7 linked regions of the Homo sapiens genome follow. The protein of the gene in region 3 purifies or fractionates together with the protein of the main gene of each other region. This does not show direct contact. Each region holds a gene or a part of one and is shown on either strand. Other genes may lie near its edges. The genes, in order: ZDHHC13, ZDHHC18, IPPK, NDUFAF1, ADCY6, ZDHHC9 and OCIAD1.

The links.
Region 1: the proteins of IPPK (region 3) and ZDHHC13 purify together in Homo sapiens (affinity purification with mass spectrometry; 2 studies listed by BioGRID and IntAct, with this or other methods). This does not show direct contact.
Region 2: the proteins of IPPK (region 3) and ZDHHC18 purify together in Homo sapiens (affinity purification with mass spectrometry; 2 studies listed by BioGRID and IntAct, with this or other methods). This does not show direct contact.
Region 4: the proteins of IPPK (region 3) and NDUFAF1 purify together in Homo sapiens (affinity purification with mass spectrometry; 2 studies listed by BioGRID and IntAct, with this or other methods). This does not show direct contact.
Region 5: the proteins of IPPK (region 3) and ADCY6 purify together in Homo sapiens (affinity purification with mass spectrometry; 2 studies listed by BioGRID and IntAct, with this or other methods). This does not show direct contact.
Region 6: the proteins of IPPK (region 3) and ZDHHC9 purify together in Homo sapiens (affinity purification with mass spectrometry; 2 studies listed by BioGRID and IntAct, with this or other methods). This does not show direct contact.
Region 7: the proteins of IPPK (region 3) and OCIAD1 purify together in Homo sapiens (affinity purification with mass spectrometry; 2 studies listed by BioGRID and IntAct, with this or other methods). This does not show direct contact.

The regions. Positions count from the first base shown.
Region 1 is NC_000011.10:19,123,668-19,127,167, reverse strand, and holds part of ZDHHC13 (palmitoyltransferase ZDHHC13), read right to left. Parts: intron 2,260-3,500; exon of another isoform or gene 1,996-2,259; coding exon of another isoform or gene 1,988-1,995; intron 1-1,987. UniProt on the Homo sapiens protein: Palmitoyltransferase that could catalyze the addition of palmitate onto various protein substrates. Palmitoyltransferase for HTT and GAD2. May play a role in Mg(2+) transport.
Region 2 is NC_000001.11:26,847,188-26,850,687, forward strand, and holds part of ZDHHC18 (palmitoyltransferase ZDHHC18), read left to right. Parts: intron 1-1,420; coding exon 1,421-1,570; intron 1,571-3,113; coding exon 3,114-3,251; intron 3,252-3,370; coding exon 3,371-3,419; intron 3,420-3,500. UniProt on the Homo sapiens protein: Palmitoyltransferase that catalyzes the addition of palmitate onto various protein substrates, such as CGAS, HRAS and LCK. Acts as a negative regulator of the cGAS-STING pathway be mediating palmitoylation and inactivation of CGAS.
Region 3 is NC_000009.12:92,663,632-92,667,131, forward strand, and holds part of IPPK (inositol-pentakisphosphate 2-kinase), read right to left. Parts: intron 1-3,500. UniProt on the Homo sapiens protein: Phosphorylates Ins(1,3,4,5,6)P5 at position 2 to form Ins(1,2,3,4,5,6)P6 (InsP6 or phytate). InsP6 is involved in many processes such as mRNA export, non-homologous end-joining, endocytosis, ion channel regulation.
Region 4 is NC_000015.10:41,395,997-41,399,496, reverse strand, and holds part of NDUFAF1 (complex I intermediate-associated protein 30, mitochondrial precursor), read left to right. Parts: intron 1-2,356; 5' UTR 2,357-2,437; coding exon 2,438-3,010; intron 3,011-3,500. UniProt on the Homo sapiens protein: As part of the MCIA complex, involved in the assembly of the mitochondrial complex I.
Region 5 is NC_000012.12:48,786,290-48,790,322, reverse strand, and holds the start of ADCY6 (adenylate cyclase type 6), read left to right. Parts: upstream 1-1,233; 5' UTR 1,234-1,417; intron 1,418-1,466; exon of another isoform or gene 1,467-4,033. UniProt on the Homo sapiens protein: Catalyzes the formation of the signaling molecule cAMP downstream of G protein-coupled receptors. Functions in signaling cascades downstream of beta-adrenergic receptors in the heart and in vascular smooth muscle cells.
Region 6 is NC_000023.11:129,805,887-129,809,386, reverse strand, and holds part of ZDHHC9 (palmitoyltransferase ZDHHC9), read left to right. Parts: intron 1-2,900; coding exon 2,901-3,017; 3' UTR 3,018-3,500. UniProt on the Homo sapiens protein: Palmitoyltransferase that catalyzes the addition of palmitate onto various protein substrates, such as ADRB2, GSDMD, HRAS, NRAS and CGAS. The ZDHHC9-GOLGA7 complex is a palmitoyltransferase specific for HRAS and NRAS.
Region 7 is NC_000004.12:48,851,588-48,855,087, forward strand, and holds part of OCIAD1 (OCIA domain-containing protein 1), read left to right. Parts: intron 1-218; coding exon 219-388; coding exon of another isoform or gene 389-405; exon of another isoform or gene 406-638; intron 639-3,500. UniProt on the Homo sapiens protein: Maintains stem cell potency. Increases STAT3 phosphorylation and controls ERK phosphorylation. May act as a scaffold, increasing STAT3 recruitment onto endosomes. Involved in integrin-mediated cancer cell adhesion and colony formation in ovarian cancer.

The sequences.
Region 1 (3,500 bases), on a different chromosome or scaffold from region 3:
TACCACTTCACACTAGTCAGAATGCTATTATTCAAACGTCAAAAAATAAGAGATGCTGGCAAGGTTACAGAGACAAAGGAATGCTTATACACTGTTGATGGGAGTGAAAATTAGTTCATTGTGGAAAGCAGTATGGCGATTCCTCAACGAGCTAAAAGCAGAACTACCATTCAACCCAGCAATCCCATTACTGGGTATATACCCAAAGGACTATAAATCATTCTACTATAAAGACACATGTATGTGAATGTTGACTGTAGCACTATTCACAATAGCAAAGACATGGAATCAATGTAAATGCCCATCAATGACAAACTGGGTAAAGAAAATGTAGTACATATAAACCATGGAATACTATGCAGCCATAAAAAAGAATGAGATCATGTCTTTTGCAGGAATACGAATGGAGCTGGAGGCTATTACCCCTATGCAGGAACAGAAAACCAAATACTGCATGTTCTCACTTATAAGTGGGAGCTAAATGATGAGAACTCATGAACACAAAGAAAGGAACAGCAGGCTGGGCATGGTGGCTCATGCCTGTAATCTCAGCACTTTGGGAGGCCAAGGTGGGTGCATCACTTGAGGTAAGGAGTTCAAGAACAGCCTGGTCAACATGGTGAAACTCCGTCTCTACTAAAAAAAAAAAAAAAAAAAAAAAAAAATTAGCCAGGGTGGTGGTATGTGCCTATAGTTCCAGTTACTTGGGAAGCTGAGGCAGGAGAATCACTTGAACCTGGGAGGCAGAGGTTGCAGTGAGCCGAGATCACACCACTGCACTCCAGCTTGGGTGACAGAGCAAGACTCCACTGCAAAAAAAAAAAAGAAAAAGAAAAGAAAAAAAGAAGAAGGGAACAACAGACACTGGGGTATACTTGAGGGTGGAGGGTGGGAGGAGAGAGAGGAGCAGAAAAAATCACTACTGGGTACTAGGCTTAATACTTGGGTAAGGAAATAATCTATACAACAAACCCCCATGACATAAGTTTGTGTATATAACAAACCTGCACATGTATCCCCAAACCTAAAACAAAAGTTTTTAAAAGAAAGTTTTAAAATTTTCAGTTTTACTTAAATGAGTCCATAATCCCTCAAGGGATTATTTTGAAGGGGCACTGTTTTTAAAAAGTTAATTTACAGTAAAATTAACTTTGGTATACAGCTGTATGAATTTTAACACATGTATGTATGGAGTCACGTAACCGCCACCATCATCCTTTGCAGTCATACCCTCCCGTAACCCCAACCAACTCTTGGCAACCACTGATCTGTTGTCATTAATTCTGTCTTTCCCAGAATGTCATATAATGGAATCATACAGTACACAATCTTTTAGGAGGGGCTTCCTCCACTCAGCACAATGGTGCTGAGATTTAACCAAGTTGTTGTATGTTATCAATAATTCCTTCTTTTTTACTGCTGTGTAGTATCCCACTATATGGGTGCGTCACAGATAATCTATCCAAACAGTCTGCGTGGGTTGTTTTCCAGCTTTTGGCAATCATAAACAGAGCTGCTAAAAATATTCGTGGACAAACTTTTGTGTGAACATCCTTTCATTTCTCTAAGAATAAGACTGCTTGGCCATATGTTAGGTATATTTAAATTTATGAGAAACTGCTAAACTATTTTCCAGACTGGCTATATCACCTTGCATTGCCACTAACAACTATGAGAGTTACAATTGTTCTGCATTCTCACCAGCACTTGGGATTGTCAGTCTAATAGATGTATAGGGGCATCTCATCATGGTCTTAATTTGCATATCCTTAACGGCTAATGAAGTTGAGCATCTTTTCACATGCTTATTTGCCACCTGTATATCTTCTCTGGTGAAGTGTCTGTTCAAGTCTTTTGTCCATTTTTTAATTGAGCTGTTTGTTTTCTTACTGTTAAGTTTTGAGAGTTCTTTATATTATATATTCTAGATACAAGTCTTTTGTCAGATATGTGATTTGCAGATATTTTCTCCTGGTCTGTACCTTACCTTCCCATCTCTTAAAAGTCTGTTTCATAGAGCAGAAGTTTTAAATTTTAAAAAAGTCCAATTTATCAATTTGTTCTTTTATGGATTGTGCTTTTGGTGTCACGTCTAAAAACTACTGTCTTGGGGTCACAATTCCTCTGTTCAGAGAGTTCTCCCTCAGTGTTTCTGGTGACTGTGCTGCCAGGAAATCCCTTTGTGGCTCCTTGAGCTTTAACTAGATAGCTTCTCATAGAGCACTCGTCTGCACTGATGCTTATTTCCAGGGCTCAAGTCAAGGCTGGGGGCAAATCAGAGAGAAAAAAGGTAAATCAGCTACTGATTTGGTGGTTTTTGAATTCCGGTCTTTTTCTTCTTCAGTCCACCTGCTTTTCTGAATAGGTAAATTCTGATTTATCTGGTAAATAATCAGTACCCCCCCACACACACGCAGAATCACACACAGCTAAAAATAAACATGTAGGTAGTTAGATTAAAATGTAAATAAAAACATTACTTTAGGATGCTTTTCCTGATATCACAGTAATTATATTCAATTGGAAGAAGGCAAAGGGTTGAGGAAAAGAGTTGAACTATACTAAAAATTTCTAGAATCTCAATAAGTAACAGGTATAACAAAAAGTGCAGCTAAGATTGACAAAAAAAATCAGTGTATTTTTATATAAAAAATTTTTACTAGAATTTTAAAACCATAAAATGATAACATATTAATTTTAAAGATCTAGCAATACAGAAGTGAATACAGGGTTAACAATCCGGACTCTTTCCTCTTCAATACTGTACCACCAGAGATAACCATTATTAACAATTGGGTGCATCTTCCCTCATTATGTATATATATTTTAACATATATAATATTGTGCTATATACATACATACATCCACATTTTTAATCATTTTCTTCTTATACTTATTGAACAAAGAATAGTATCACATTATATACATTATTCTTCAACTTGCTTTTCTCATGTAACAATATATCATGTACAGTCCTGCAGTTCAGTAATATTTCACTATTGTTCCATTGTATATAGATCTAGTATAATTCATTCAACACTCCCCTTTGGTTAGAGACACAGGTTGATTTCAGCCTTTCATATCTATACACAATCAACACCCTGGGCATTCTAATTCTATAGGATTGATTCCTCAAAGTAGGACTGTTGAGTCAAAAAACGTGCATTTTAAACATAAATAGATTCTGACCAAATACTCTCCCCAATTCACAGTCCCAATAGCAAAGTATATACGTGTTCTTTCTCCCTACAAACCTTCCCAGAACTGAATATTATCAATCTTTTTACAACCTTGACACTTTGATGGCTAAAAATGGCATCCTATCTTTCACCTGTACTCCCCTAGTTGCTAATGAGTCTGAGTGTTTTGTTTGTTGTTGTTGTTGTTGTTAGGTATACTGGCTCTCCATATTTTCTCTTTTGTGGATTGCCTTTTCATAGTCTACTTGTTTTTCTAATGAATTGCACATATCTGTTTCTCTTTGTAGGTTAGAAAGATTA
Region 2 (3,500 bases), on a different chromosome or scaffold from region 3:
CCTGGCCAATTGTTCCCTAATTTTTGTTTGTTTTTAGAGACAGGGTCTTGCTCTGTCACCCTGGCTAGAGTGCAATGGAGTGATCCTGGCTCATGCTCACTGCAGCCTGGAACTCCTGGGCTCAAATGATCCTCCCACCTCAGCCTCCTTAGTAGCTGGGACTATAGTCACACGCCGTCATACCCGGCTAATTTTTGTCATTTTTTATAGAGATAGGGTCTTCCTATTTGCCCAGGCTCATCTTGAACTCCTGGGCTCAAGCAGTCCTCCCATCTTGGCCTCCCAAGGTGCTGGGACTACAGGCATGAGCCACTGCATTCGGCCTGTTTCGTAGTTTTTAATCTGTAGTCAGATTTCCACAGTTGCCCTCCAAATGTCTTTTGTTGCTGTGTTTTGTTTTGTTTTTCAAAATAAGATCCATGATGTATTGCATTTGTTTATGTCTCTTAAATCGCTTTTAATTTAGAATCATCTCCTCTCTGCCTCTCTTTCTCTCTCTCTCTTTTTTTTTTAAGACAGGTTCTGGCTTTGTTGCCCAGGCTGGAGTGCAGTGGCGTGATCTTGACTCACTGCAGCCTTCACCCCCTGGGCTCAAGTGATCCTCACTCCTCAGCCTCCCAAAGTGCTGGGATTACAGGTGTGAGCTACTGCACCCGACCTCCTCTCTCTTTTTATAAATGACATTGACTTTTGTTAGAGATCAGGCCAGCAGTCTTGTAAATGTCTCATATTCTAGATCTGACTTTTTCCTCATTGTGTTACTCACTTTGTTCCTCCATCTCCTGAACCTCCTGTAAACTGGGACATAGGTCTAGGCTTGATGAGATGCAAATAAACCTCACTGGCTGGGCGCGGTGCATCACTCCTATAATCCTGGCTGTTTGGGAAGCCAAGGTGGGCAGATCACCTGAGGTCAGGAGTTCAGACCAGCCTGGCCAACGTGGTGAAACTCTGTCTCTACTAAAAATACAAAAATTAGCTGGGCGTGGTGGCACACTCCTGTAATCCCAGCTACTCGGGAGGCTGAGGCATGAGAATCGCTTGAACCTGCGAGGTGGAGGTTGCAGTGAGCTGAGATTCACGCCACTGTACTCCAGCCTGGGCGACAGAGTGAGACTCTGCCTCAGGAAAAAAAAAAAAACCCTCACTAAGCTTTCTGGGAGTCTCCTTCTCTGACAGCCCTTCTTAGAGTGGGTAAGGCCGGCAGGTGTATGAACAGAGGCAGTCTCAGTACATGGTGGCAGTTCCTAATATTTGTCCCTGCCTTAGGCCAGACATTTTACTCCAATGTTTGTTCCTGGGAACCTGTTACCCTGAGGCTTCTCCTGGACTGGCCAGGCAGCAGTAGCTTTCCCCTGCTGGGGATCCGGGCCCTGGGCTGCCTTGGGCATTCCCCATCTTTCTCTCCTCCTTCCCTCAGACAACACAGGCAGTTCTACATACCGGCCACCCCCTCGGACCCGGGAGGTGCTGATCAACGGGCAGATGGTGAAGCTGAAGTACTGCTTCACCTGCAAGATGTTCCGGCCACCCCGAACCTCACACTGCAGTGTCTGCGACAACTGTGTGGGTGAGTAGGAGGCAGCAGGGAGGGATGCAGGGATTCCTGAGAGAGACTGAGTCGTGGGGATGGGGGGCATCAAGCATGGGGATGGCGTGGGCAGGGTCTGAAATACCCAGGGCTGGGCAGGGGGTCTGGTTCACCCAGATTTGCCCTGACTCAGGAGGGCCCAGGGGAGGGGCCCTCAGCATAACCAGGAGTGTTTTGGCTTCAGCTCAGGATTGGTGGATTCCTTCCCCCAGCTCTGAGGTGTGGGGCAGACAGACAGGCTTTGAACCCTTCTCCCAGGCTTCAGCCCGGTCCTCAAGAGGTCCAAGCTCCCAGGAAACAGACTGGAACAATAACATTCCAGATGTGTTTGGGCCAGAAAGAATGAGTTACTGTCCAGTGGCCCAGGGCCAGCTGTACTGAAAAACTTTGATCTGATTCCCAGAGTTGAGAGGGAAAAGCATCTAGCAACAGAGGCGTTTAAGCTGATGAGGTGCAGAGGATGTCACCACTGGAAATGGCTCCTGACCCTACAGCTGCCTGCAGTGGTTGTTTTGTCCCCTCTCCCTGCTCTCCAGAGGCTGTGTAGTTCTGATGGGCACCCTGAGAGGGTGTTGTAAGGGAAATAATGCATGAGAGGGCCCAGGTGAGCTGAGCCACAGTGACTGTGCATAGTTCCCAGGGCAGTGAGCTCATCATGCCAGCTCAGTACTCCCTAAGCAAGAGAACAGCAGGGAACACCCCCCCGTGACGGCATGCAGTGAAGGGGGTGACTCAGTGGGCACCATTCATCCCCAAGGAGCTGCCCCGCCCACGCCGTGCAAAGGGCACTGGCCTTGGCATGAGGCCTGCAATGGGCTTGTGACCCACATTCCCACAAGGACTTTCTTTACCAGTCTGGGTGTGCCTCCACCCCCGGGGACAGTGTGCAGGTGAGCTCAGCCCTTTGACCTGGCCTGTGATGCTGGCTGGCTGTGAACCCCATTGCAGCTCAGCCCCTCCCTGGGCCGCTAGTCCTAGAGCAGGAGACGGGTTGTTGACTGTTAGCATGTGGTTGGGATGGTAGACCAGGTGACAAGTATTTTTGTGAGTCTTTGTGCCGGCACTGCTCTGGATCCTGGGGAGTCAGCATGGTGTAAGACCAGCACAGCCCCCCTCGCCCATGGAGCTTACAGTCAAGTAGGGCTGATTGGCCAATCCAGTTATTATAAATAAGCATAAAAACACACATGGGCAGAGTGTGACAAAAGAGAAGTGATGGGGCAGATAACAGGGGCCCCCTCCCCTAGTCTGGGATTGGAAGAGACTTTCTTAAGGAGGTGGCTTTGCAGCTGAGACGCGAAGGAGAAGTTCCAGTTAACCAGGTAAAGAGACGAGAGAATGTATCAGGCAGTGGGAACTGGTACACAAAGGACCAGAGGCAGGTGTGTCCAAGGCCTGGGAGCCAGCTGGTGCTGCGAGAGTGAACGGGGTAGGAAAGCCCCAGCCATGGGTGAGGCCGCCAAATGCCTGTGCTGGCTGCAGGCCAGCCCACACTAACCCATCGCCCCTTGCCCTTGTCCAGAACGATTTGACCATCACTGCCCCTGGGTGGGCAACTGTGTGGGGAGACGGAACTATCGCTTCTTCTACGCGTTTATTCTCTCCCTCTCATTCCTGACGGCCTTCATCTTCGCCTGTGTGGTCACCCACCTGACGTTGCGTGAGTTGTGGGTGAGGGCAGTGGGGAGTGGAAGGGGTCAGCCAGCAAGCTCAAGGGTCAGCAAGCTTCAGCAGTCACTGTCCCTCTGAGCTTGTCCTCTCCTGTTTCTTTCTCCCCAGGCGCTCAGGGAAGCAACTTCCTCTCCACTCTGAAGGAGACACCAGCAAGATATCCTTTGTCAGCTAGAGGACACTCCAGTGGGAACTGAGGTCCCTTCACTGGGTGGGTGCCCTGCCTCATCCTCTAATC
Region 3 (3,500 bases):
CATTAAAAGGGACACCTGCCAATGGGAAGCCTGAGGGGGCACCTTATGGGTGGAATTAAAGCTACTAACTACAAGAGCCTTTCAGGACAGATGAGGAGAGACTTTCCCGCCACCCACAGAGGACTCACTCTGGAGGGGTATCACCCACAAAATCAGCTGTTCCAGAGATCTGTCAAAAGACAAGGACCAAGGTCAAGTCTTCCATCAGGCTGAGGAGATAACCTGAAGCTGAGATCAGACAACTTTCATGGGAAGGGAAGACAGAAAAAGACAACAGCAGCAGGGGTCACCCCTCAGGATGCCTTCTAGAAGCAATGCTCAGCTCCAGCTTCTTCCGAATTGTGAAGATGACTCCCAGGCAGGGGCCATGGGGGATCCCAAATGTCCAGTCTCAAGAGGCTGCCCTCCCTGTAGACCCTCCTTAGCTTACCCCCGCAGCTCCAGCTCCAGCTCTGTCCCAGCCAGAGAAGGCTGCCCGGGGTCTGTCAGTCACCAGGGGCAGGAGGTGCCGAAGTCCACCTCTGCAACCCAGAAAGGGATGTCCAGGATGCGTAGGACCGTGGAGGGAACAAGAAGCAGGGCTTACGGTACTGGGCTCCAACAGGAAGCGCTCCCAAGGGTGAGCTTCGCTTCACTGGGAATGTATGGCCTCAGATAGAAATACAAAGCACATTTGACACCGGATGAAAAGTGACATCACCAAGATGCCTGTGGAGGATGGGAGCCCAGTACTCTGCAGGCAAGAGCAGGGAGGCCAGACTGGAGACAGCCTGGGGTCAGGGCGCAGTAAGTGCTGGCCCCTTGTCCAACCTGTATGGGGCATGTCCTCAAGCCTCGGCAACTCCGTCCTGACCTCATGGTGTCCTCTGCAGGACTGAAGCAGGCACAGGTGTGGGCCATGGGGGAGGTCACACACCCACACAACTCTCAGAACATGGGGAGGCCTGTGGGGATAGGCACACCTCGTGCATGGGGCTGACCCCTATAGGCATGGAAAGCCTCACTGCCTGTAAAGGGGAAGCAGGGCTGCCTAGAGGCCCACAGTGAGGGCCACAGGGAACTGTGAGCAAGTCCGGGCCCTCAGATCTCCCAACCGCTTGGCAACAAGGCAGGAGTGGCCGGGCCCTAGGCACAGCCTTGCTCTCTGCAGACACAGTAATGATGCTTTTCTCACCCTCCTGGATCGCAGCTCTCAGAAGACACAGGAAGTCACTGGGGAGCTTTGCTCTGACTGAATTCTGATGCAGAAGGAGGCTCAGTCAGGCAGAAGAAAAGTGGCTGTGTGACCTCAGAAGGTGTAAAAGTAGGAGGTGAGCCAAGGCCAAACCAACAAACCCCCGTGCACGAGAGGCACTGTCACAGGCTGCAGTCACCAAACAGCAGACCTCATCACGCAACTGCAGATACAAAGAAAGGAATAAACAAAGAGCGAGCCACAAGCACAGCTCTCCAATGAGCTCAAATGAGACAAGAAGGAACATCACCAGGAAAGAAGCCACATCAGCTGCGTCAGCCTAGAGCGCCACTAAAAATCCCAAATGCAGAATACATCACTAGTTTAAACAAAATGCTAGCAGTAACAGAAAGCTAAGACTATTTCAACTAGGTCCAGCTAAAAATTGTAAAAGGGAGCGACCAAGGGCTTGGGCACATGTTATACAGTCAGAAAAAAACAGAGAACATAAACGTATGTGCTTTCAGCATCCACAGTAGGAAGTATGGCCCAGTTAACAGTCCTGCAGGACTGCACAATGGCTTTCCACTTAACCTGTTCTAAGTGATTCTGTAATGGATATCTTTGTGTATAAGATCTTTATTTACGTTTCTAATTATCTCCTTAGAACGGACTACTAGAACAGAAATTAGTAAATCAAAGAGTATAAACTTTTTAAAAATTAATCTTTTTTCCTGAGTATCATACATATCCATTGTAGGAAATTCAGAAAATATTTAAAAAACAAAAAAAAGTAAAAGTGATTCGTGATACTATCAGTTACAGCCACTTAGAACATTTTCATCTATTTTCTTCTAATCATTTTGTAATTATAACCACATCATGCATCTTCTTTTGTAACCTGCTTTTTCTACGTAACTGTAAACACATCCTCATATAAAGGACTTAATTCATCCACTACAAAATAATCATTTAAATTATTAAAATATACAAAATCATGCTGTATGGCAAAAAAAATACATATATATATGATCTATGAACCAGAAATCTTAAAACACAAGATGAGAAGAGAAACAGTAGAAGGGCACCTGACCGCTTGAGCTTCACACCTTCAATGCCCAGACAAATATCCCAAGCACTAAACAGGTACCAAAGGGACACCAAAACTCCCCAGGCAACAAAACAATTTGCAGAAATGATCTGAAGCTCTCAGACTCTCAGAAAGGTCACGAAACTGGAACAACTGGAAGTGAGCAGCTTTGTCCACACATGTGATCAATTTAGTTGGCTGGTAAGCCAACTAAATGGCAAAGTCTTTCCTGTCACCTCTGTCAGTAAGAAGGAAAACATCATGACAGCTTAGTGTCATGACAGGAGTGGGCCACCTTCTGCCCCTGCTCCCCAAGGCTGAGGTGGTCCGGAAGGGGCTCAGTGCCCCAGACAAGTGCATGATCCAGATCTGAAGACACCTAGGAGATGGAATGACAAACCAAACCTAAAGTGACCTTCATAGGACAGGACACTGAGCCAAAACCAACAAGCTGAAGGCGAAGGAGGCAGGCGCAGGCGTCACACAGGAGAGAAATCCTGCGGCAGTGCATAAAGGGGCAACCTGTGGACTTCACTAACCTGAGATGTGGCCACTGGCCCAAGTACTGCACCTTCAGGCTGCAGCGAGGAAACTGTGCCCAGATGGGAAGTTCCCTCATCAAGGAGCCCCCACAGGGTCAGTGTCTGGAGCTCCAGACACACACCAGGGAACATGCCAGGCTGCCGAGAGCCTCTCAAGCATGCCACAGGGTCCACACCACATGAGGCAGAGAACACCATGGTTACCTGTGCCTGGGAAAGTTCAGGTGCACAACCATCCCAAACAGAGGCAGAATGCAAACTGACAGGCAAAATGAGAATCATCCTGGGCCGTCTCTGAGTGGAAGGGCCTTGGGGAAGCTGACCACCTTCTGTCAGGAACACCTTTAAACGCCTCTCTATGGCTGGCCTGCTATTTACCTTCCTGCCCACCCTGGGCACAACCTCCCACCCTCCTGTAGCCCACACCTAGTTCCTCCATCCCCAGGCCTCATTTCCTACAAGTCCTGCGCTGCACAGAAGGCTCTCTCTCATCCCATGTTTGCATACTGCAGGAAGAACATCACTGTGCTCCTTCTAGTGCTGACAGCCAATGACCATGCAGATCTCCTTACCTAGGCCCTCGGCTCCTGCAGGACGAGCTCAGGCTGGCTGAAGGCGCATCATGTTCTCATGGTAGAGGGGATGGGGGTCAGCACAGGACTCATTAGGGACCTTTCAATTCTGAGAGAAGCTG
Region 4 (3,500 bases), on a different chromosome or scaffold from region 3:
CAGCCTCTGCCTCCCAGGTTCAAGCGATTCTCCTGCCTCAGCCTCCCGAGTAGCTGGGATTACAGGTGCCCACCACCATGCCCAGCTAATTTTTTTTTTTTTTTAGTTGGAGTCACTCTGTCGCCCAGGCTGGAGTGCAATGGCACGATCTCGGCTCACTGCAACGTCTGCCTCCTGGGTTCAAGCGATTCTTATGCCTAGGCCTCCCAAGTAGCTGGGATTACAGGCATGGGCCACCACACCTGGCTAATTGTTTGTATTTTCTGTAGGGGTTTCACCATGTTGGTTAGGCTGGTCTTGAACTCCTGTCCTAGGTGATCCGCCTGCCCTGGCCTCCCGAAGTGTTGGGATTACAGGCATGAGCCACCGTGCCAGGCCAATTTTTGTATTTTTAATGGAGACGGGGTTTTACCATGTTGGGCAGGCTGGTCTCCAACTCCTGACGACAAGTCATTTGCCTGCCTAAGACTCCCAGAGTGCTGGGATTACAGGTGTGAGCCACTGTGGCGGGCTACAATTTTTGGTTTTTTTATTTTTTTTGAGATGGAATTTCACTTTTGTCACCCAGGCTGGAGTGCAGTGGTGCAATCTCGGCTCACTTGCAACCTCCGCCTCCTGGGTTCAAGTGATTCTCCTGCCTCAGCCTCCCCAGTAGCTGGGATTACAGGCGCTCTCCAACATGACCAACTAATTTCTGTATTTTTAGTAGAGATGGGGTTTTACCATTTTGGCCAGGCTGGTCTTGAACTCCTGACCTCAAGTGATCCGTCCACCTTGGACTCCCAAAGTGCTGGGATTACAGGTGTGATGCACGGCACCCGGCCAACATTTTTTAAAAAAATTAGCTGGGCATGGTGGTGTGCACCTGTAGTCTCAGCTACCTTGGAGGCTGAGGTGGGAGAATCATTTCAGTCCAGGGCCCAGGAGTTCAAGGCTACAATGAGTTATCGATCTTGCCACGGCGCTGCAGCCTGGGTGACAGAGCAAGAGACCCTGTCTCTTTTTTTTTTTTTTTCACATGGAATTTTGCTCTTGTCCAGGCTGGAGTGCAGTGGCGTGATCTCGGCTCACTGCAATCCCTGCCTCCTGGGTTCAAGTGATTCTCCTGCTTAAGGCTCCCTAGTAGCTGGGATTACAGGCGTCTGCCACCACGCCTGGATTATTTTTAGTAGAGATGGGGTTTCACCATGTTGTCAAGGCTGGTCTCGAACTCCTTACCTCAGGTGATCCATCCGCCTCGGCCTCCCAAAGTGTTGAGATTACAGGCGTGAGCTACCACACCTGGCCTGACCCAGTCTCTTATAAAAAGAAAAGAAAAAAAAAAGGCCGGGGACAGTGCATCATTCCTACAGCCCAGCACTTTGGGAAGCCGAGGGGAGAATCACTGGATCCTAGGAGTTCAAAACCATCATGGGCAACACAGGGAGATCTATTTCTTTTTCTTTCTTTCTGTTTTTTTTTTTTTTTTTTTTTGAGACAGAGTCTCGCTCTGTTGCCAGGCTGGAGTGCAGTGGCACGATCTTGGCTCACTGCAGCCTCCTCCTCCCAGGTTCAAGGAATTCTTTTGCCTCAGCCTCCTTAGTAGCTGGGACCACAAGTGCGCACCACCACACCCAGCTAAGTTTTGTATTTTTAGTAGAGACGGGGTTTCACCATGTTGGCCAGGATGGTCTCAATTTTTTTTTTTTTTTTTTTCCCGAGACAGAGTCTCGCTCTGTCGCCCAGGCTGGAGTGTAGTGGCGGGATCTCCGCTCACTGCAAGCTCTGCCTCCTGGGTTGACGCTATTCTCCTGCTTCAGCCTCCCCAGTAGCTGGGACTACAGGCGCCCGCCACCACACCCGGCTAATTTTTTGTATTTTTAGTAGAGACGGGGTTTCACCGTGTTAGCCAGGATGGTCTCGATTTCCTGACCTCGTGATCCACCCGCCTCGGCCTCCCCAAGTGCTGGGATTACAGGCGTCAGCCACCGCGCCCGGCCCAGTCTCTATCTCTTGACCTCGTGATCCACCCACCTCAGCCTCCCAAAGTGCTGGGACCGTGCCTGGCCAGGGAGATCCATTTCTACAAAAAATTTAAAAATTAGCTGGGCATGGTGGTGTGTGCTTGTAATCCCAGCTACTTGGGTGGCTGAGATGGGAGGATCATTTGAGCCCAGAAAGTAGAGGCTACAGTGAGCTGTGATTGTGCCACTGTACCCAGCCTGGGCCACAGAGCAAGACCTTGTCTCAAATAATAATAATAATAATAGTAAACAAATAAGTTAACAAACTTCAAAATACCTGATTTCTGTTGAATTTGAAATTGTGATGCATTCATTGCTATGCTGATAATTCTTCAATGTCTCTTCTGTTATAGGTAGAATTGGGCTATTTGCTGAAGCTTCTTGGTGGCCCTTGCTAGCCCAGGAAGAAACTTACATTTTGATTTTTTTGTACCATGGCTTTGGTTCACAAATTGCTGCGTGGTACTTATTTTCTCAGAAAATTCTCTAAGCCAACTTCTGCCTTGTATCCATTTTTGGGTATTCGCTTTGCAGAGTATTCCAGTAGTCTTCAGAAACCAGTGGCTTCTCCTGGCAAAGCCTCCTCACAGAGGAAGACTGAAGGGGATTTGCAAGGAGATCACCAGAAAGAAGTTGCTTTGGATATAACTTCTTCTGAGGAGAAGCCTGATGTTAGTTTCGATAAAGCAATTAGAGATGAAGCAATATACCATTTTAGGCTTTTGAAGGATGAAATTGTGGATCATTGGAGAGGACCGGAAGGCCACCCTCTGCATGAGGTCTTGCTGGAACAAGCCAAGGTTGTCTGGCAATTCCGGGGGAAAGAAGATTTGGATAAGTGGACAGTGACTTCTGATAAGACGATTGGAGGCAGAAGTGAAGTGTTTTTGAAAATGGGCAAGAATAACCAAAGTGCACTGCTATATGGAACTCTGAGCTCTGAGGCGCCTCAGGACGGGGAGTCTACCCGAAGTGGGTACTGTGCAATGATATCCAGGATTCCAAGGGTAGGTGAGGCCCAGGAGCCATCGTTTTCTAGTAAACAGGGGTGAACTTCATTGTAGCATAAACTATAGAAGATAGCTTTTGTTTCTGTAAATGAAAACACCTGGCATGTTATATTTGGCACCTCACCTGTGTCTGGGGATAAGTAACTATTGGCACAAGTGTGAAGTGGAAGCACAAGGGGGAAGTGGTTTCTGAGGAGGAGGAGTTAACTTGTTTCTGCGCATTGCTTTGGGCCAGGAACGAGCATTGTTATGTTTCAGGAATCCTGAGAGGTTAGACATTTGAAAGATTTTTGGAGAGATTTTCATCTCCTCTAAAAAAGACCACAACCTCTGTAATGACCAGGGGTTTTGTAGAGTGGATGTAGGGTTAGCCTGTGGCTTTCTTTTTTTTTTTTTGAAACGGAGTCTTGCTCTGTCGCCCAGGCTAGAGTGCAGTGGCGTGATCTCGGCTCACTGCAACTTCCGCCCTCCAGGTTCAAGCGATTCT
Region 5 (4,033 bases), on a different chromosome or scaffold from region 3:
AGGGCTGGTCCTGAGGAGGAAGCATCTTCAGATACCTAGGTCTTGGGATCTTGGGTGGGGAATAGGCTGCTTGGGGAAGGGCTGAATTGGAAGGAGGAGCTAGAGGTCTGACTGAGGGAATGGAGAGGGGGCCTCAAAAGGAAGCCAGGCAGGCTGCCTTCTTCCCAGCTCCAGAATGGCACCCCCTCTAAAGTCACACTCACCTACGTACATCCTGGAGTGAAACTCCTTCTCCTTTCTGCTTCCACCATTACTCTAATCCTCAAAGGGTTAACCAGCTTTCACACGATTTTCCCATCTCCCAGGTAACTTGGGCAGCTGCTCCGTGCTGGAAATAACTAAAGACCCAGTTTCTCAGTTCGTGCACTTAGCAATGCACCCCAGTAGCCCCTCCAACCCCCAGCAGAGAAGCACAGCCCTTTGGGTAAAAGATGCCTGGGGGTGAGGCTGCAAGTTGGCAGGTGCGGGGGAGGGGCTCCCAGAGAGTAGGGCGGGGGGTTGTGGGGGCGGCAGGGAGAGTGCCCCTTCCCTGGGTCCCTCCACTGGGCCCCGAGGTTCGCCTCGGGGCCGCTGCCCCAGAGACTGGGGGGAAGAGGAAAGAAGTGGTGTGCGGGCAAGCAGGCCGCACACACCTGGCGCCTTGTGGAATGAGAGCTTAATTAATTATTAAACTGAGTTCCCGCGGGAGGGCGCAGGGCCGTGACAGGCAGGGCGGGAATGGCTAGGTGGGGGCTGGGGCTGGGGCAGGGGCAGGGAGGAATTGGGGATGAAGAGTGGGCGCGGGGCGCCGGCCCAACCCCTGGGACCCTGACAGGAAGGAAGGCGACCCTCGGTGGGCGGGGCGGGGGATGTAGCCGTGAGGGGTGGGTTTGCGGGCGCGCTCGGGGACCCCCGGGGTGAGGGCGGGAGAGGAATGCCGGAGGAGGCGGCCGGGGTGAAGGGAAGGGGACCGGGCTGCGAGGTCCCCTCCCCGCGGGGTCTTGATCCCAGAACAGTAGCTGCTTGTCTTCCCAGGACTGGGGGAGGAAGCGGCCGGAGGAGAGGAGGGGGCGCGCGGAGGGAGGGGTCCCATTATTTGGCCTCCTCCGCCCCTACCCCGCTGCTAGGAAGGGGAGTGGGCAACTCGGCCCCCACTTCTGGGGAGGGGGAGGGGGATGCCCAGACAAAAGGAGCTTGTGCCTTTAAGGCGGGGAGTCCGGGAGCCAGCGGGGAGGGGACTTCTGGATCCGGGGTAGAGGGCGGCTGCGCTGGACAGCTCGGGAGGGGGCGAGGGCCGGGCGGACGGCGGACGGCGGACGGCGGGCGGGACGGCCAGGACGCGCGGGCTCGGAGGACCGCGGGACGGCCGGCCGGCCGGCCGGAGCCCGCGGGGGCGGCGGGGCGGGGGCCCAGGGCAGGCGCGGAGCCGGGCCGGCAGGTGAGCGCGCTGAGGGCTAGGGGAAGTGGCCGCTCGGGCTCCCGGTGCGCCAGGATTGGAACGCACCCGAGCGGCTCTCGACAAGAGTTTGTGGGTGGGGGCGCCGAAGCCTTGGACGGGTCGTCTCGGCAGTGTTGCCCGAGGGAGTTGGGGTTGGCAAAGGGAAGTCATGGAGGCAGTGGGATCGAGGACTCCTAGGTCCGGCGCTCGCCACCCCCGTCGCCCGCCGCCTGCCTCCCTCCACGGGGCGAGTTCCAGGCTGGCCCGGAGGCCAGGAGGATCTGGCACGTACTGGGGGAGGGGCTGGCCTGAGTTTTTTGCTGCGGGGCTGTGGGGTGTCTCCGAGTTTGGGGGAGATTCCATTTAGGGGAGAGGAACCGGCCTGGGCAGAGGGAGGGATGCCCTCTGTCTGCGGGAGTCCCTCTCCTTCCCCTCACCCAAAACCTTGGGAATGAAAGGGGTGGGGTCGGCTCCCCACATCCCCCAAGGCCTGCCGCAGGGTGGGCAGGGGAGCTGACTTTATTCAAAGCAGACTCTGGGGCTCGACTGAAAGGCTAGAGGTGGAATCAGGCGTGGGAGCCTCTTTGCCCATATCCTCTCCTTACCAGATTACCCCTGTGAGCTGGAGGGACCTGGTGGGGGTTGCATAGTAAAGGGTGATGTGGGAGCCCTCTGTAATCTTTAGGGAGAGTGAGGACTGGGGATGGGAGAAGGCGGCAGCGGGCACTGGACCGACAGATACAGGCCCTGGGTAGGCTCCTCTACATCTGGAAAGGCCCAGAATTGAAGAATTGAGGCCCATGTCCGAGTATGGTGGGTGGTGCTGGCACTGCTGGGCCCCGCCTGGGCAGTGCCTCTTACCATGAACTTTCTGAAGTCGTTTTTAATCCCCTGGAGCCTCCTTTTGCCAAGGAGGGCAGGGGCAGATGGGCCCTGGGGATGGGATAGACAGGAGGTGGCCAGGAAGGCTTGGCAAGGCAGTGGGCAGAGCCATCCTTAGGGCTGGGCCTTGGCCTTGGCTGGTTCCAAACTCTGGTCTCAGCCTGATCAGGGTTTGGGAGGGACTTGAGGTCTGGGAGGCACTGAGCCTGGGCCTGCCAGGCTGAATGGGACATGGCTGTGGCTGTGGGAGCCGGTGGTATGAAGAACAGCAGATCTGTGAGAGTGCAAATGGACCAACACTCAGGGGAGGAGAAGGTAGAGGCACAAGGCTTAGGAGCCTGACTCTGGGGAGGAGGGAGGTGGTCTGTGCTCCCAGGGCTCATAGTGATGGGTTGCTGGACAAAGTGGGTTGGGGGACCATATAGAGAAATTTTGTGGCTTGGAACAGTGCTCTACCCTGTTTCCTGCCATACCAGTCTGGCATGGGGTGCCAGAAATGTTGGGAGGCCGGCAAGTTCTGCGGGATGGGCAGTGCCTGGAGTGGAGCCCAGGGTGGGATGGTTGCAGTTGGTTGGACAATTACATAGCTCTGAAGCTATCCCCTTGGGGGGGGTCAGAGTGTTCCTGGGAGGGTCATGCATTCTCCTGGATAGCATTTGCCCCTTTCTCTGTGAGTATGAGCCAGATGCTAGGATGTGTTTCCAGGGGGCTTGGAACATGGCCAGAAACTAGTCCTTTGGGAACAGGTCCGGGCCAGTGCTGGTGGGGGTGGTGTGTTGGGGGAGATAAGAACAGGGAAGGGGACTGGTGAATGGAGGAGGCTGAAGCAAAATGTTGTGGGTGGTGGATGGTGGTGGGAAACCTGCTCACTCTGGGCTCTGTCTCCAGCAGCTCTGGGGACTGACAGCCAAGGACACAGGGACTGATAGAACCAGGCATCTGACTGGCTAGAAAGACGTGTGTTCTTGCTCATGATTTCCTCATCTTTCCATCTCTTGACGATGACAGAGGTTTGGGTTTAAAGTGTTGTAGAGTGAGGAGAAGAACTAATATTTTTCAAGTGTGTACTTCTTGACAGGCATTATTAGATTCTTTCCTGAGGACCATTATCATTTCCATTTTGCAGATGAAGGTACTGACACAGAGAGGTTAAATAACTTGCCCAAGGCAGTGTGGCTAGCAAATAATCACGCTAAGGTTTGGAACCCTGGTCTCATGCCAAAGATCATGCTTCTAATGAAGTATTTTGAAGAGCAAGGCTTTCTTTGGTGACCTTTTCCAAATGCCAGCCTGACCAAAAGTCTTGTATTCCTGATCTGTCCTTCCAGATGGTGCTGTTGGTGATGTTAAGAGGTTGAAGGGGCCAGGCATGGTGGCTCATGCCTATACTCCCAGCACTTTGGGAGGCCGAGACAGGCAGATCACCTGAGGTTAGGAGTTCGAGACCAGCCTGGCCAACATGGTTAAACCCTGTCTGTACTAAAAATACAAAATTTAGCCGGGTGTGGTGGTAGGTGCTTGTAATCTCAGCTATGGGGAAGCCGAGGCAGAATTGCTTGAACCCAGGAGGCAGAGGTTGCAGTGAGCTGAGATTGTGCCACTGCACTCCAGCCTAGGTGGGGCAGAGTGAGACTCCGTCTTAAACCAAAAAACAAAAGGAGGTTGAAGGACGTGCTGCTCTGTGGGATATAGGAGAAGGGGTGCTGACAGATCTTGGCTGAGGGTGACTCAGGG
Region 6 (3,500 bases), on a different chromosome or scaffold from region 3:
ATATGGCCAAATGATATTCCATTATATGGATATACCACATTTCATTTATCCATTCATCAGTTGATGGACATTTGGATTGTTTCCACCATTTGATTATTATGAGTGATGCTGCTATGAACATTTGTGTACCAATTTTTGCATGGCCATATATTTTCATTTCTCTTGGCTATATACCTGGGAGTAAAATAGCTAGGTCACATGGTAGCTCTATGTTTAACCTTTAAGGTACTGCTGAACTGTTTTCCAAAGTGGCTGCACCATTTTATACCCCCACTAGCAGTGCCTGAGGGTTCCAGTTTCTCTACATCCTCTGCAACACTTATTATCTGACATTTTGAGTCTAGCCATCTTAGTGAATGTGAAGTGGTATCTCATTGTGGTTTTGATTTGCATTTCCCTGATGACTAATGATGTCGAATATCTTTTCATGTGCTTATTGGCCATTTTTATGTGCTCATTGGAGAAGTGTCTGTTCAGAGCTTTTGTCTATTTTTTAATTGGATTGTTTGTCTTTTTTATTGTTGAGTTGTAAGAGTTCTTTATGTAATCTGTATGCAAGTCTCTTACCAGATATACAATTTGCAAATATTTTCTCCTATTCCATGGGTTATCTTTTAATTTTCTTGATAGTGTCCTTTGGAGCACAAAATTTTTAAATTTTGATGTAGTCCAGTTTGTCTATTTTTTTCTTTTGTTGTTTGTACTTTTTGGTGTCATATCTGAGAAACTGTTGCCTAATCCAAAGTCATGAAGATTTATGCCCTTGTTTTCTTGTAAGAGCTGTACAGTTTTGGCTCTTACATTTAGGTTTTTGATCCATTTTGAGTTAATTTTTATATATGGTGTGAGGTAGAGGGTCCACATTCTTTCTTTTGCCTGTAGCTATCCAGTTGTCTCTGCACCATTTGTTGAAAGGACTATTCTTCTCCCATAGACTTGTCTTGGCACCCTTGTTGAAAATCTATAAATGTGAGAGTTCATTTCTGGACTTTCAGTTCTATTGTATTGCTCAATATGTCTGTTCTTATGCTAGTACCACGCTGTCTTGATTACTTTAGCATTGTAGTAAGTTTTGAAATCAGGAAATGTGAGTCCTCCAACTTTATACTTCTTTTTCATGATTGTTTTGGCTCTTCTGGGTGCCTTAAATTTCCGTATGAATCTTAGGATCAACTTGTCATTTATGAAAAGAAGCCAGCTGGAATTTTGATGGGGATTTCATTGAATCTATAGATCAATTTGGGGAAATATTGCCATCCTAACAAGATTAAATATTCTGAGCCATTTACATGGACTGTATTTTCACATATTTAGGTATGATTTGATTTCTTTCAACAACATTTTGTAGTTTTCAGAGTATAAGTTTTACACTTTTGTTACATTTATTCATAAATATTTGATTATTTTTCATGTTATTGTAAGTGAAATTGTTTTACTAATTTCATTTTTGGATTTTTCACTTGGAGTGTATTGAAAGACAATTGATTTTTATATATGGATCTTATACCCTAAAACCTTGCCAAGCTTGTTCATTAGTTCTTTTTTGTTTGTTTTTGTTTTTATTTTATGAGATGGAGTTTCGCTCTGTTGCCCAGGCTGGAGTGCGGCAGCGCCATCTTGGCTCACTGCAACCTCCACCTCCTGGGTTCAAGTGATTCTTCTGCCTCAGCCTCCCAAGTAGCTGGGATTACAGGTGCCCACCACCACACCGGCTAATTTTTGTGTTTTTAGTAGAGACCGGGTTTTGCCATGTTGGCCAGGCTGGTCTCAAACTCCTGACCTCAAGTGATCTACCCTCCTCGGCCTCCCAAAGTGCTGGAATTATAGGCACGAGCCACCGTACTCGGCCCTTGTTCATTAGTTCTAATAGATTTTTAGTAGTTTGAACTTTGTTTTAAAATAGAATCATACTTTTTTTTTTTTTTTTTTTTTCTGAGACGGAGTCTCGCTCTGTCGCCCAGGCCGGACTGCGGACTGCAGTGGCGCAATCTCGGCTCACTGCAAGCTCCGCTTCCCGGGTTCACGCCATTCTCCTGCCTCAGCCTCCCGAGTAGCTGGGACTACAGGCGCCCGCCACCGCGCCCGGCTAATGTTTTGTATTTTTAGTAGAGACGGGGTTTCACCTTGTTAGCCAGGATGGTCTCGATCTCCTGACCTCATGATCCACCCGCCTCGGCCTCCCAAAGTGCTGGGATTACAGGCGTGAGCCACCGCGCCCGGCCAGAATCATACTTTTAAGTGAATTCTTTTTATAAGGTAGATAATAGTTCTCTACTTTGCCTTTCCTAAATTTTGAATTTCCTTTTAAAGTACAGCAACCCGTGTTTATATATTATTGTTGTCATTTTTAATATTATTTTTTAAATGAGTCTGGACTCAAATTGTAACAATCTAGGTTAGTTATTCTTGGTTCAAAGTGGAGAAGGGTGGTATTTTAGAATCACTTGGGGACATTTTCAAACCACATATGACCAGCTGAAAATTTGGACACTTGGCCTTCTTTGGTTCAGAATCACTATTCTAATGAGCTGTGTGTTCGGGCAGAAACACGATTGAGGACCATTGGGTCAGGCCTTGTTACATAAGTATGTTATGACATTTGTTCTGAAGTGGGGAGGACCTGTGTAATTATTTGTGATTCCTATTATTATGACTATTAATAATAATAGAAAAATCTGTCCCCAACCAACAGTTAAGGATCAAACTCAAATAAACTTCAGTTGTGTTCTGCCGAGAAGACGATAGCTTGGTGTTGGTTCTGAGTTTGGTGTTGGTGGCTGCATATCTGTAGCATCAGTGTGATCAGGGGGCTGAGAGGAAGAGTTCAGTGTCTAAGGTTTATCTGCATTTGGATTTTGAGGAACAGCTTTGTGTTGAATCTCATATCTTTTCCTTCTCAGGCCCCCACAGAACACCTGAACTCAAATGAGATGCCGGAGGACAGCAGCACTCCCGAAGAGATGCCACCTCCAGAGCCCCCAGAGCCACCACAGGAGGCAGCTGAAGCTGAGAAGTAGCCTATCTATGGAAGAGACTTTTGTTTGTGTTTAATTAGGGCTATGAGAGATTTCAGGTGAGAAGTTAAACCTGAGACAGAGAGCAAGTAAGCTGTCCCTTTTAACTGTTTTTCTTTGGTCTTTAGTCACCCAGTTGCACACTGGCATTTTCTTGCTGCAAGCTTTTTTAAATTTCTGAACTCAAGGCAGTGGCAGAAGATGTCAGTCACCTCTGATAACTGGAAAAATGGGTCTCTTGGGCCCTGGCACTGGTTCTCCATGGCCTCAGCCACAGGGTCCCCTTGGACCCCCTCTCTTCCCTCCAGATCCCAGCCCTCCTGCTTGGGGTCACTGGTCTCATTCTGGGGCTAAAAGTTTTTGAGACTGGCTCAAATCCTCCCAAGCTGCTGCACGTGCTGAGTCCAGAGGCAGTCACAGAGACCTCTGGCCAGGGGATCCTAACTGGGTTCTTGGGGTCTTCAGGACTGAAGAGGAGGGAGAGTG
Region 7 (3,500 bases), on a different chromosome or scaffold from region 3:
ATTGCTTGAGCCTAGGAGGTGGAGATTGCAATAAGCCAAGACTGCGTCACTGCACTATAGCCTGGGTGACAGAGCAAGACCCTGTCTCAAAAAAATAAAAAAAATTATATGTATATATAATTTTGGAAATAAGCTATATGAAAGAAGTTATTTTAACACTTCTTTAAGATATAGGCAATGACTCATATTTCTTACTACAATATGATTTTCATTTACAGGCACTATTATCAAAAGTCAAAATATGACTCAAGTGTGAGTGGTCAATCATCTTTTGTGACATCCCCAGCAGCAGACAACATAGAAATGCTTCCTCATTATGAGCCAATTCCATTCAGTTCTTCTATGAATGAATCTGCTCCCACTGGTATTACTGATCATATTGTCCAAGGTAGAAACTTCTCTTGAAATGAATTTCAACATTTTATGGTCCAACGTATGTATAAACTTTATTTGATGACCTTTTCTGCTGGATATCACCTGTGTGTTCTACCATCAATCATCAACCTAAACTCAGCATGTTTGTTCATTTGTTTCTTCATTCATTCAACTTTTCTTGAGGACCAGTAGGTGTCAAGGACTCTGCTAGACGTGGAAGAAGATGAATAACACTTGGTTCTTGTCCCTGAAAAACTTTCAGTCTGTTAGAAGATATAGAAATACAAGGATGAATTACTAGTATGTCCCAGTAATTGAAAATACTAAGGCAAGCTTAGTGGAATAGTGAAGAAGAAATGATAAATCGTGTCTCAGGAAGTAGAGCTCCAGGAAAGGTATAAAAAGGTTACATTTGATAGGCTGGGTTTTAAAGGCTTTCAGCTTCCCTGTCTGTAATACAAGAAAGAACTGTTGTCAAGTGAGAAAATCCATGTGAAAATGCTTTGTGAAGTTTGTAAATACTAGCTTTGAAGATCACACATGTAAGTGCAACAACATCAATTTTGTATTAAGGCTTGGATTTGAATCATGATTGACATTTGCTAGCTATGTGACCTTGTAATACTACTACTACATTATAATAATGTAGTAATATTATTATAACTACTTTATGATCCTTTCAGTTTCTTGATCAGTTGAATGGAGATGATACTACCTCTCTTAATGAACTGTTGGAATTAGAGGAAATAATCAGAGGCAATGTCTGGCAAATAATAGACTCAAAAAACATTAGTTTCTTTCCTTCAGTCTAGTCGGCAGTAAAAGATGAGGAATTAGAAACGGGAAATACAGGTCTGTAATTCTTTATCTAAAATCCTGAAATTCAAAAAGGTTTAAGCCAAGTTTTTTTTTGTTTTTTGTTTTTTTTTTTTTTTTTGAGATGGAGTCTTGCTCTGTCGCCCAGTCTGGACTGTAGTGGTGCGATCTCGGCTCACTGCAACCTCCGCCCCCCCAGCTTCACGCCATTCTGCCTCAGTCTCCTGAGTAGCTGGGACTGCAGGTGCCCGCCACCACGCTCGGCTAATTTTTTGTATTTTTAGTAGAGATGGGGTTTCACTGTGTTGGCCAGGATGGTCTTGATCTCCTGACCTCGTGATCCGCCCGCCTCGGCCTCCCAAAGTGCTGGGATTACAGGTGTGAGCCACTGCCCCCGGCCTGTTTTTGTTTTTTAATAATTAAACTGGTAATAAAATCTGACCTGAATTCATTTAGCAGAATACCCTGACCTAAATTCACATAAGTTATATAAACGTAGACTTTATTTACTTTGCCAGATAAGATTTTTCCTTTATTTCATTATAGAAATATTAATGTGTTTGCTTACTCATTCCTGTCCTAAACCTCTGAATGGATGGATATTAAGTAATATAAGGGGTATTTACTGTAGTATTTTTCTAAAACCTCAGAAACTTTGAATAGTGAAACATACCTGACCCCAAGGTTTGGATAAGGGATTATGGACCTTTGTAGAGTATACTCTTTAAATTTTAAAAGATTAGAGGGAAAGAAGTTAAAGGGAGGGGAGGGTATACAGTGGAAAGGGAGAAGTTGATTATAGGTCAGAGAAGGTTCTAGAGAATGCAGAAGGGGGTTCTAGGTAGGTCAGAGTAGCCGCTAGCCATATGTGGCTATTTAAATTAATTAAAGTTAAATGAAATTTAAAATTCAATTTCTCAATTGCTTTGGTAGCATTTCACTTGCTCAATAGTCACATGTGCTAGTGGCTACCGTGTTAGTGCCAATATAGAACATTTTCATCATTGCAGAAAGTTATGTTGGACAGCACTACTTAAGAGCAAAAGTCGGGGCAAAGGGGTGAGTATTAGCCTTGTATAAAGGAAGAGACAGGAAAGAATGGAAGTTCAGATGATTAAAGAATTTGGATGAAAGTTATTGAGAGCTTCTTAATCCTCAACTCTGATTTTTTTATTTTTTTCTTTAATGGTTGGAAGCAAAGGCATCAAATTAGTCAGAAAAGGAAGGAAGGGAATGGGCAGATTAGGAGAGAATGGCTAAAGTCACTATCTTATCTCCAAAGGCAGCTGTCCTTGTTCCTCACTATGTCTCATTTAACCAGTCTGAAGTTCAAATCCATTCTTCTTGTACAGTAGTCCCCCCTTATCCATGGGGGATAAGTTCGAAGACCCCTGTGGATGCCTGAAACCTCAGATATTACCAAATCCTTTATGTTCTATGTTTTTTTGATCTAGATGGCTACTAAGTTACTAACAGGCATGTAGTGTAGACAGTGTGGATATGCTGGACAAAGGGATGATTCAAGTCCTGGATGGACCAGAGCAGAACCTCACAAGATTTTATCACACTACTCAGAACAGGGTGTAATTTAAAATTTATGAACTGTTTATTTCTGGAATGTTCCATGTAATATTTTCAGACCATGGTTGACTGCAGGTAACTGAAACCCTGGAAAGCGAAACCACAGATAAGGGGGCACTACTGTATTCTAGACATGCACTAACTCTTTCCTTGTGATGACTTGCATCTTCCCCACCATTTGCATTAGGAAATTCTGTTATATAGTTTTTTTCCATACAAAAGCCAACAAACAAAAAGCCCTTTGGTATCTACCCACAGACTACTTAGCAAGGCCATGTCTTAATATTATTTTATGCCTTCCACAGCAGCCATCCATCCATCCACTGCTCTGCCTTCTGACCCCCTTCTCTAAATCAAAGTGGCTACTTTTTTACTGCTCTCCACATGGGCCAGCAGTGGCCTGCTTTTGCTTTGCCCCAGATGCTATCCTCCCCTACCAGGGCATCTTATTCTTTGGTTTAAGTCCTACTTTAGTTCTGCTTTCTTTTACCAGGAATTCAGAGAGTTATTAATCTTTTAAAATAGCAAGCACTCCTTCAGAGCTGTTAGGAGACTTAGAGTTTATTACAGTTAGATTTAAATCAGTGCCACTTTACATTTTTTTATTCCTTCCAGTTCTTTATAACCTTCCCAAAATAGTAAATCATGTTCTCTCCATAGTGTGGGAAATTCTCCCCAGTCTTCTTCTGTCTGATGTATATTTTCATTATTTGTTCCAGAATTTTATA